2 separate regions of the Homo sapiens genome follow, and region 2 is linked to region 1. The links come from fine-mapping of genetic effects on gene expression. A gene starts in region 1. The other region holds a variant in brackets. All regions are shown on one strand. Distances are from middle to middle. Region 1 holds the start of PPEF1 (protein phosphatase with EF-hand domain 1). Region 2 holds the start of TRV-TAC1-2 (tRNA-Val (anticodon TAC) 1-2).

Region 1 (5,376 bases):
TCAAAATATATACATATCATCATTTTATTAAAATATTTAGTAAAATTCTCCAGGATGTCTCACAGATAAATGAGAGTTATGATAGGTGAGTTTACCAGCTAACTGAACAAATGTGCTCAGCGAGTATGAAGGTAACGGATCTGTGGTGAACCTGGAGGATGGTTTGGAGTGGGATGCCACAGGGCTCATCCTGCCCTTGGATCTGATCTTGTTAATGTTCTTTAGCCATGATGTAGATAAGGAAGACACGAAAGAAATGCCTATCGAATTTGGAAATAAAGCCAAGCACGGTGGCTGATGCCTGTCATCCCAGCACTTTGGGAGGCTGAGGTGGGCACGTTGCTTGAGGCCAGGAGTTTGAGACCAACTTGGGCAACATGGTGAGACCCCATGTCTACAAAAAAGTACAAAAATTAGCTGGGCATGGTGGCGCATGCCTGTAGTTCCAGCTGCTCAGGAGGCTGAGGTAGGAGAATCACTTGAGCCCGGGAGGTGGAGGCTGCAGTGAGTCATGGTTGCGCCACTGCACTCCAGCCTGGGTGACAGAGCGAGACCTTGTCTCAAAAAATAAATAAAAATTTGGAAGTAACCCAAAGTTTAGGAAGGCTAATTCATTCAATACATAAAATAATCAGGTTCACCTCTGGTCAGAAAATCTGTTTACTAAGCTTATTGTTATTTTCAAAACATGGCCATAGTTCAAATATTTTGCTTATTTTAGTTTTCCCTTTCTTCAGTCGAGTTGAAATTTTGAAGCTTTTGGTGTAGTACCAATGGAAAGATAGATATGTCAGTTGTTTGCTGACTTTGTGCCTGTCAAGAAATGCAAATAGGGCTGGGCAAGATGGCTCACACCTGTGATCCCAGCACTTTGGGAGGACAAGGTCGGAGGATCACTTGAGCCCAGGAGTTTGAGACCAGCCTCGGCAACATAGGGAGACCCTGTCTCTACAAAAAAATAAAATTAGCCGGGTGTCACGGCACATGCTTGGGAGGTTAAGGCTGCAGCGAGCCGTGATTGTGCCACTACACTCCATCCTGGGTGACAGAGTGAGACCCTGTCTGAAAAAAAAAAAAAAAAAAAAGGAATGCAAATATATTAGATCAGGTTGGTTTGGAGCATCACAAAATAAAGGAAACATCACCCTAAAAAGTGACGTGACAGTATACTATGGAAAGGAATTTTGTTGAAAACTCCCGTGAAGTGATTATGGGAGTCAGGGAGCTCATGAGAAGGACTATAGAACACAAAGTTAGACTCCAGAGGGGCCTCAGCAGTGCCCAGAGAGCTTGTTTAAAAGGGCACTCTTGGCCAGGCACGGTGGCTCACGCCTGTCATCCCAGCACTTTGGGAGGCCGAGGCAGGTGGATCACCTGAGGTCAGGAGTTCGAGACCATCCTGGCCAACACAGCAAAACCCCGTCTCTACTAAAAATACAAAAAATTAGCCAGGTGTGGTGGCGCATGCCTGTAGTCCCAGCTACTAGGGAGGCTGAGGCGGGAGGATCACCTGAGCCTGGGAGGTTGAGGCTGCAGTGAGCTGTGATCACACCACTGCACTCCAGCCTGGGTAATAGAGCGAGACTCCGTCTCAAAAAATAAAATAAATAAAAGGACACTCTCACAGATTACAATTCCTAAATTTGGGGGGAGGTTTCAAACCTCCTTTTTTTTTTTTTTTTTTTTTTTTTTTTGAGATGGAGTCTCGCTTTGTCGCCCAGGCTAGAGTACAGTGGTGCGATCTCAGCTCACTGCAACCTCCGCCTCCTGGGTTCAAGCGATTCTGCTGCCTCAGCCTCCTGAGTAGCTGGGATTACAGACATGTGCCACCATGCTTGGCTAATTTTTGTACTTTTAGTAGAGACGGGGTTTCACCATGTTGGCCAGGCTGGTCTCGAACTCCTGACCTCGTAATCCGCCCGCCTCGGCCTCCCAAAGTGCTGGGATTGCAGGCGTGAGCCACTGCGACCGGCTGCCTCCTTTTTTTTAAAACAAATGTTCCCAACTTATTCCGCGAAATACTGTCAAAGAACTCACTTTGAATTTCAGCATAGCTGTTAAATATGTTGTTTTTGTCTCATAGTCAACTTCCAATTTGTGTTTTTAAAAGCCTAGATAGGTTGAATTACTTTGAGCTGAAAACCAAAACAGTTAATTATGTCAGCTCCTCCACATCCCATTCCCCATATTTAAATTAGAAAATCGTACACTCTCATATTTCGATTTTTCTTTTCATTTTGAATGCTCTATTTTATACAGAGCTGGATGTGACCTAGACATGGAGAAACTCATTTATGTCTAGCAGAGAAGCAGCCTATAGCTGCTCTGTAGCTGCTGCTGTGTTTTGGAAAATAAGCCAGGATTAGATTATGTCTGATCACTTTCCACATCACATGATGAACAGCGATTCAGAAGAAGCGTAAAATGAATCCTGCTGAGCAGCCCCTCAGCTACCATGTGGTTAACTGGCGGTTTCCTTCCCTCCCTCCTGTGTATTCCTCATTAGAATCTATGACTGAAGAGGATCGGCTAAGAGTGGTTCCTCGCAGCTTAAAGGGAGGCACTTTTCACACTCTGTCTTAAAATCAGAAGTTGAATTCATGAACACATATGATTTAGATAGAAGTCATGGGATGCAGCAGTTCTTCAACGAAAACCAGGAGATCTGACACATGTGAGTACTGGGAATGTGCCTGTGGTTATGAATGAAAAGGGGAAAATGAGCTGCCCTCACCCTCTTCTCCTTTCTCATTTACTCCCACGATGCTCAAGCTGCCCTGTGTGATTTGCACAAGGCATCGTTAGAGTAGCATAGGAAACTACATTTAGGAAGATGTAGCTTTGAATTTATGAAGTACCATAAAGTATTGTCTTAGAGATATTTTGTGTTTGATTTAATTTCATTCGATAATGTACCAATATAAAATCTCAATTTAAAACTCAGTGGCAGGGAACAAGAAAGGCAGTGTAATTTATATGTGTTTCTTCAATACTTTTATAAATAGCTATATCCCTACTTTTGTGACATTTAGTAGCATCATTGAATTTTTATTGGATTTTATAACTCAATGATCACATTATTTCTATATCTATTCAACACAGAACTTCATGAGATTTGCATCACGTTTTAAAAATAATCTAGGAGAATTGGGAGAATGCTAGATCATCTGTTTCCAAAAAAAAGGTGTATTGTTTCTAAATAGATGGCATGCCTTTCTGTACCCCCATATAATTAGAAGCTTAAATATTCACTTTGTTTATTTTGTACTGAGGTTCTTTCTCATGGCTATTGGCATCTAGTTGAAACAAACTTGAGCATTTAAGGGATAGAGTTTCCAACAAGCAAATTAAAATAAAAACAAGTAAATAAGCTGGGACAATTAATATGAGTAATTTGCTCTTAAACTCCACTTCTTTGATGTCTAGGTTATAGGTAATTCCCCCAACTTCTATTCCACGTCTTGCCTTTGGAAGTTTATTCAGGCTTAAGGTGGAGGGTTTAGGATGCAGAGTGTGCTATACTAATTAGCGTGGGATGTTTTACTTTGGGAATCAAATGTTATTCTCCTACCCAGCTGACTTGTGCTGATGATGTAGGAAACTCATCTCTGAAAGTAGGAAGGGACATAGGAGGTGTACTGACTCTTTCAAATCTTTAAGCATGTCATGAAATAAATCTTTCAAAAGCTCCATCTGAACTCTACTGCTGTAGTAGACGTTTATTAGCAGAGAGTAAAGAGAAATTATCTTTTTATATCTAGGATTACTCACAGTTCTTTAAATTTAGCCAAATTTCCTAGGTTAAAAAAAAAAAAGCCAAGTCCAACTTGTAAAAACAAATCCTCTCTCTTTTTGAAATACTTTTCAACTTTTAAAACATTGCATGTAAGTGGAAATATTAGCTTAGATTTTTGGATTGCTTTTTCTTTCAAATACCTGTGATTTATTGAGGTGAAATTCACGTAACATAAAATTAGCCATTGTCAAGTGAACAACTCAGCAGCAGTTGGTATGTTCACAGTGTCGTGCAACCACAACCCCTATGTACTTCTGAGACATTTCCAACACTCCAAAGTAAAACCCCTTATCCATTAAGCACTTTCTCCTCTCAGCCCCTGGCAACCACAAATCTATATTCAGTCTCTATGGATTTATCTATTCTGGACATTTCATGTAAATGGAGTCATATATTATGTGACCTTTTGTGTCTGGCTTTGTCCATGTTGTAGCATGTATCAGTACTATATTCCTTTTTATTGTGGAATAATATTTCATTGTATGAATATGCCACATTGTATTTATCCATTCATCAATTGATAGACATTTGGATTGTTTCAGCTTTGTTTTTTGTTTTTTGTTTTTTTTGAGACAGTCTTGCTCTGTCACCCAGGCTGGAGTGCAGTGGGGCGATCTCGGCTCGCTGCAACCTCCGCCTCCCAGGTTCAAGCGATTCTCCTGCCTCAGCCTCTGGAGTAGCTGGGATTACAGGCACACACCACCACACCTAGCTAATTTTTGTATTTTTGGTAGAGACAGGGTTTCACCATGTTGGCCAGGCTGGTCTCGAACTCCTGACCTCAGGTGATCTGCCCGCCTCGGCCTCCCAAAGCGCTAGGATTACAGGCGTGAGCCACTGTGCCCGACCTGTTTCAGCTTTTTGACTGTTATGAACAATGCTGCTGTGAACATATGTTTTCCGTTCTCTTGGGTATATACCTAGAAGTGGAATTGCTGGGTCATACGGTAGCTTTATGTTTAACATTTTGAGAAATTTCCAAGCTGTTTTCCCAAGTGACTGCACCATTCTACATTCCTACCAGCAGTGTATAAAGGTTTCAATTTCTCCACATTTTCAGCGATAGTTGTTATTGTCTGTCCTTTTGATTTTAGTCATCCTAGTGGGTATGAAGTGGTATCACACCATGGTTTTCATTTGTATTTCAGTAGTGACTAATGACATTGAGCATCTTTTCATGTGTTTATTGGCTATTTGTATATCTGCTTTGGAGAAATGTCTATTCAGATCATTTACCCATTTTTAATTGAATTATTTATTTTTATATTGTTGTAAGATAAATTTATATATTCTAGATACAAGTTTCCTATCAAATATGTGACTTGCAAATATTTTCTCTCATTTGTTGAATTCTCTTCATCCTTTCTTAATGGTGTTCTTTGAAGCACAAAAGTTTTTACTTTTGATGAAGTTCACTTTATTTTTTCTTTGGTTGCTTGTGATTTTGGTGTCATATCTAAGAATCCATTCCCGAGTCCAAAAAGATTTTTGCTCACGTCTTACTTTAAGAGTTTTGTAACAACTCAACAAGAAAAAAAAGATAACTCCATTAAAAAGTGGGCAAAGGTCATGAACAGACA
Region 2 (5,376 bases), 31 kb before region 1:
CTTTAATAATTCACCTGCAGTCAAAGCGCTGCTGTATTGCCTGCCACATTTTAGTTGGAGGTTGGGTGGCCGGCCCTTGCTGGCTTGCAGGCAAAGGGCAGCCAGGTGCATTCCCCGAGCGCCCGATTTTCCGAGGCGTACTGGGAGGAGAGGTGGGGTAGGGCCCGGCCGGATCGGGGGCGCCGGATCGGGTCTAGGACTTCGCCCGGCCCCTGCCCTCCACTACTTCTCATGTCGGACTATGGCGGCAGTGACCTTGTGGGATAGGAGAGGGTATCTGTCATTTCACTTCTGCGAGAAAAACATGCCAAAAAATTAAAAAGAAAAAAAGGACAAAGAAAAACACTTCGTTGTCGCTTTTTGGTTTTTTTTGTTTGTTTAACCCAAACCCTTTTTTTTTTTTAACCCAAACAACGAAACCCTATAAAAGCAAAAACAGCCGCCTTACGGCTATGGTTCCACTGGGGCTCGAACCCAGGACCTTCTGCGTGTAAAGCAGACGTGATAACCACTACACTATGGAACCTCTACGAGGAAGAATATTGTTGGGACTTTATTCATAGACTCACAGCAGTTCCGGTCCCTCCGCCGGAGCCCCGCCTCTCCACCGTGACCCCGCCCCCGAGGCGAGGAGTTTGCGGCGGCTTCGAGTCTCGGGCTCCGGCGTTTGGGCGGCTTGTCTTCCCTGCCCGCCACAGTCGCGGCCCCTGGGACCAGGGCGAGGCCGGAACCCCGGCCGAGAGCACCTCCCTGCTATCATCTGTCCCCAAACTTTCCCTCAATCGAGGCGCCGGCGGGGCGGCCCGGCGGCCGGAAGTGCACCCTGCTCGGGCTTTGCGCCCCCGGCAGCTTCCTCCGCCCGCGAGGGCCCCGCGCCTTCCCATTTTCCCAACCGGCAAACTGAGCCTCGGCCACCCGGCCCACTTGCCGGTCGGAAGTCAGGACGTCGCCGCTTGCGGCGGCGTGGAAGGCTTCGCCTCCGGAGCAAGGAGGACGGGCCGCTGGTTAGCGGGCCCTTTGCCCGAGGGTGTGGACCTCTACCCGCTCCCCTGCCCCTTCCCGCAGCCTTCTTCCCCTCCCGAGGACAGGCCTAGGGGGTGCAAATGCCAGGGCTTCCGTTAGGTCTCCTTAGTCTAGGGCTGCAGGGGTTGGGGGACGAAGACGTGTAGACGGGGCCACCCGTCTATGGCTTCCAGGGTGGCAGCGGCCCTGGCCACGTGATTGAGGGGCCCAGTGCAAAATGAAGATGCCAGGCCCCTTGTTAAGTTTTTGAGAATTTCACACGGTAACAGCAGAGTATTCAACCTGGTGCGGGGTCCCTGACTTGCTTGCAGGACTGTAGTCTGGGTAACGGGCTGGGACCCTCCATCACAAAGGGTGATTCTTGTTTTTCATCGTCAGTGTCATTTGCCTTCTTCAGGGCTTCCAGGTGGATCTTCGTCACCACCCTAGGATTGCTCACCATTCTCAAGCTTGAAAACCCACCTGCAATCATTTGGGCGGGGGGGGGGGGGCATCTTTAAGCGCCCAGGTGAACTTGGTCTGCAGGCAGCAGCTGTCCTTTTCTCTGGATCTTCTGCTGAGGTCGGTAGGTTGATAAGTGATACTGATTTTGTGGCAGGAACTCCCTTCAGCCAACTCCTGTCTTCCTGGGAAGGCCTCTGGAAGAAACCAGGTGGGTGCAGGGAACACTAAGGTGGGGATCTGGATGTTCGTCTTGATTTGGCCATTCATGAGCTGGGTGCTCGAGCTAGTCAGTTCACCTCTGGTCTCAGTCTCCTCCTTTGTAAATACAAGGGTTGGACTAAACACGTCCCCTTTCACCTCTGGGTCTCAATGTTATGCCCATCTTCCACGTAGGAAAACGGAGGCAGTTATCTGCCATGTAATCCCCCCCACACACACACCCCCGCCCCCCGCCCAGAAGTAGAGGCAGGCCAGCTAGTGGCGTGGGTTTTTCTAGTACCCGTTTCCCGATGTCCTCAGTTAGCTCCCTGTCATATTCATCATGGGGCCCCCTTCTAGTCTGCTTTTTTGGTGAGACGTTTTCAGAGGCCTCTCGAGCGCTTGATGCCTAGATTGTGGGCCACGAGATGACCAGAGTGGCCAGCCACCGGCCGGAGGATACGTTCCTGAGAGCTCCACGTTTCCCACTAGTCAGTGAGCCTCAGGACTCCTGGGAAGCCTGATAATAAGTGTATCCCACCTGTTTCCAAACCCCTAGCGGTCGAAAACAAGACTGCCAGGAACTGGCCCTAAAGTTACACCCACTGGTTGTGTTTTGGATGGTGTCTCTAGGAAATGCTTTGCTCTCCAGCCCCCCACATCCCGATTTTTCTGTCTGCCCCTGGGTATAAAGGTATGTTTGCCAAGTTCCCAC[A/G]CTTAACCTCTGTGCAGAAAAGAAGCTGGTGTCCCTCTGTTGCATGCTTAACCTCTGTGCAGAAAAGAAGCTGGTGTCCCTCTGTTGCATGCGACACAGGTATCTGCCTTTGGTGAAAAACTCTTGTTCCTTTTCTCCATTCCAGGAGGGAAACTGTGTTCTGTTCTCCCCGCCGCCCCTCGCAAGGTGTCATCACAATCTTTTTTTTTTTTTTTTTTTTTAAGACGGAGTCTCGCTCTGTTGCCCAGGCCGGAGTGCAGTGGCACGATCTCAGCTCACTGCAACCTCTGCCTCCCGTTCGAGCAATTCTCCTGCCTCAGCCACCCAAGTAGCTGGGATTACAGGCGCCCCCCCACCATACCTGGCCTACTTTTTGTATTTTTAGTAGAAATGGGGTTTCACCATGTTGGCCAGGTTGATCTCAAACTCCTGGCCTCAAGTGATCCGCCCACCTCGGCCTCCTGAAGTGTTGGGATTGCAGGCGTAAGCCACCGCGCCCGGCCCCACCCAGCTCAAATTCTGTGGTCATTTTTATCACTTGCTTGTTTGCCCTTTCATTTCTTCCTTGTGCTTGTTGGTAAAACCACAATCTCTTACATCTGACTGTCTCCCTACCCTGCCCCTGAACATGGCCCAAGAAGAACACATCCAAGCTGACTGGTTTCACACTAAATTCATGACTGCTTAGCTCAAGTGAACCCTTTCTGCAGTCCAGAATACGTGTCCACTTCTAAGGACGGTTTCATGTCTTATCTCCGTAAACCTCCTGTACCCCCAACCCTAATCTCGGTTACAGCTGATGATCTAGCTTCCTATTGCGGTGAAAAAATGGAAGCAATCAGAAGAGAACTTCTGGAAGTCCCCTGCCAGCCACCGTCTGCTCTCGTGCTCTTCCTCTGGATCAGGATGGGTTGGGACTGGCTAACTCTGTCGTAGGAGGCTGTCCCGTGTATTGTAGGATGTTTTGCAGCATCCCTGGCCTCTATTCACTGGATGCGTGTAGCACACATCCTCCCCCACCACCCAGTTGTGATGACCCAAAATGTCCCCTGGGGGACAAAATCTTGGGAGTTCTTTGGCAATATCTGGAGACGCTTTTGTTGGTTATGACTGGGAGAGGGGTACTATAGGCACCCAGGAGGGAGAGGCCGGGGCGCTGCCAAACATCCTGTGGTGCCAGCTACTCTGGGGGAGTGAGGCGGGCAGAATCCCTTGAGCTCAGGAGGTCGAGGCTGTCGTGAGCCATGATTGCACCGCTGCACTCCAGCCTGGGTGACAGAGTGAGAACCTGGCAAAAAAAAAAAAAAAAAAAAAGCCGGGTGCGATGGCTCACGCTTATAATCCCAGCACTTCGGGAAGCTGAGGCGGGCGGATTGCTTGAGCTCAGGAGTTCAAGACCAGGCTGGCCAACATGGCAAAACCCCATCTCTATAAAAAAATACAAAAAACTTAGCCAGGCATGGTGGCGCACACCTGTAGTCCCAGTTACTCTGGAGGACTGAGGCAGGGAGGATCCCTTGAGCCTGGGGAGGTCGAGGCTGCAACAAGCTGAGATCGCATCACTGCACTCCAGCCTGGGCGACAGAGTGAGACCCCGTCTCAAAAACGAAAACAAAAGCAAAAAAACAGGAAAAAAGCTCTTAATTCCACTTCCACCTGTGCCACTTCCATGTCTCTGCTCTCCTTTATAATACAGTTCTTAGATTGGTCTGGTGCTCTCTCCAGTTCTGTCCCCCCACTGGGACTTGTTCCAGCACTCCACCAAAATTCCTCTGATCCAGTGATTTCCACATTGCTACACAGAATAGCTCTTCCTTTTCATCAGATTTGATCTACTAGCAGCATTGAAAACAACCCATCACTCTGTTTTGAGGTACCTTCCCCTCGGCTTTTAGGATGCGGACCTCTCGCGATGTTTATTTCCTCTCACTGCATACTCCTTTTTGGTCACTTTTGCTGGAGCCTCATCTCTTTGACCTTTAAACACAGCCGTACCTCAGAGGTCTCGGTGCTTGGACTTCTCTATTTGTTCTCACCACCCCAGCGACCTCATTCAATCTAATGGCTTTCAATACCCTTGAGAACCTAGAAGATTCCAGTGTGTATCTCTAGTCTAGACTTTTCTCTCAAACTCCAGACCTACATGTTCAACATCTCCATTTAGATGTCTGTTAGGTTAGGCATCTCACATGTCTGTGTCCACGCTTCTGATCTCTGCCCCTAAATCCGCTTCTCTCTTGATCTGTTTTTCTTTTTTGGAGACAGTTTTGCTCTGTCACCCAGGCTGGAGTGCAGCAGCGCCATCTTAGCTCACTGCAACCTCCACCTCCTGGGTTCAAACAATTCTCGTGCCTCAGCCTCCCGAGTACTTGGGATCACAGGCGTGCGCCACCACATCCGGCTGATTTTTTTCTGTATTTTTAGTAGAGATGGGCTTTTGCTGTTTTGGCCAGGCTGTTCTTAAACTCCTGGCCTCAAGTGATTCACCCACCTCGGTCTCTCAAAGTGTTGGGATTACAGGCGTGAGCCACCGTGCCTGGCCTCTGTTTTCTTTATCGCAGATAATGGCAGCTTCATCTTTCCAGCTATTTAGGCCTAAAACTAAGAATCATACTTGATTCTTCTTTTTCTTACACCCCCAGTGTAATCTTACTAGCAAAGCTTATTGGCACCACCTGCAAGATCTATCTATGCTAGCTTTCTGTCATCTCCCCAGCTACACTCTAATCAAAGCCACTATCACATTTTGCCTGGATCATAGCCAGTAGCCTCAGATCTTGGCCTTTCAGCTTCTGCCCTTTCCCCCCTACAGACTATTCTCCACACAGTAGCCAGAGTGGTCCTTTCAAGATTCAGATTAGCTCTCATCATTCTGTGCAAAACCCTTCAATGGCTCCCTACCTCAACTAGAAAAGCTGAAGCCTTACAGTGGCCTACAAGGCTTGTGCCTCTCTGGTTATAAATCCTCTTACTGGCCAAGCACAGTTGATCATGCT

What was found. PIP is the estimated chance that this variant, and not a neighbour inherited with it, causes the effect.
Region 2: its variant is fine-mapped to the expression of PPEF1 in whole blood (TOPMed, PIP 0.95).

The regions. Positions count from the first base shown.
Region 1 is chrX:18,705,153-18,710,528 of GRCh38, forward strand. It overlaps PPEF1 (protein phosphatase with EF-hand domain 1), which reads left to right and starts at 2,493. Exons shown (of 16, transcript NM_001377996.1): 1 at 2,493-2,674. The coding sequence starts at 2,629.
Region 2 is chrX:18,674,456-18,679,831 of GRCh38, forward strand. TRV-TAC1-2 (tRNA-Val (anticodon TAC) 1-2) reads right to left here and starts at 526; the gene lies at 454-526. It also overlaps a transcript of PPEF1 not described here. RefSeq lists a silencer at 451-637. The variant A/G (reference allele first, on the strand shown) is at 2,381.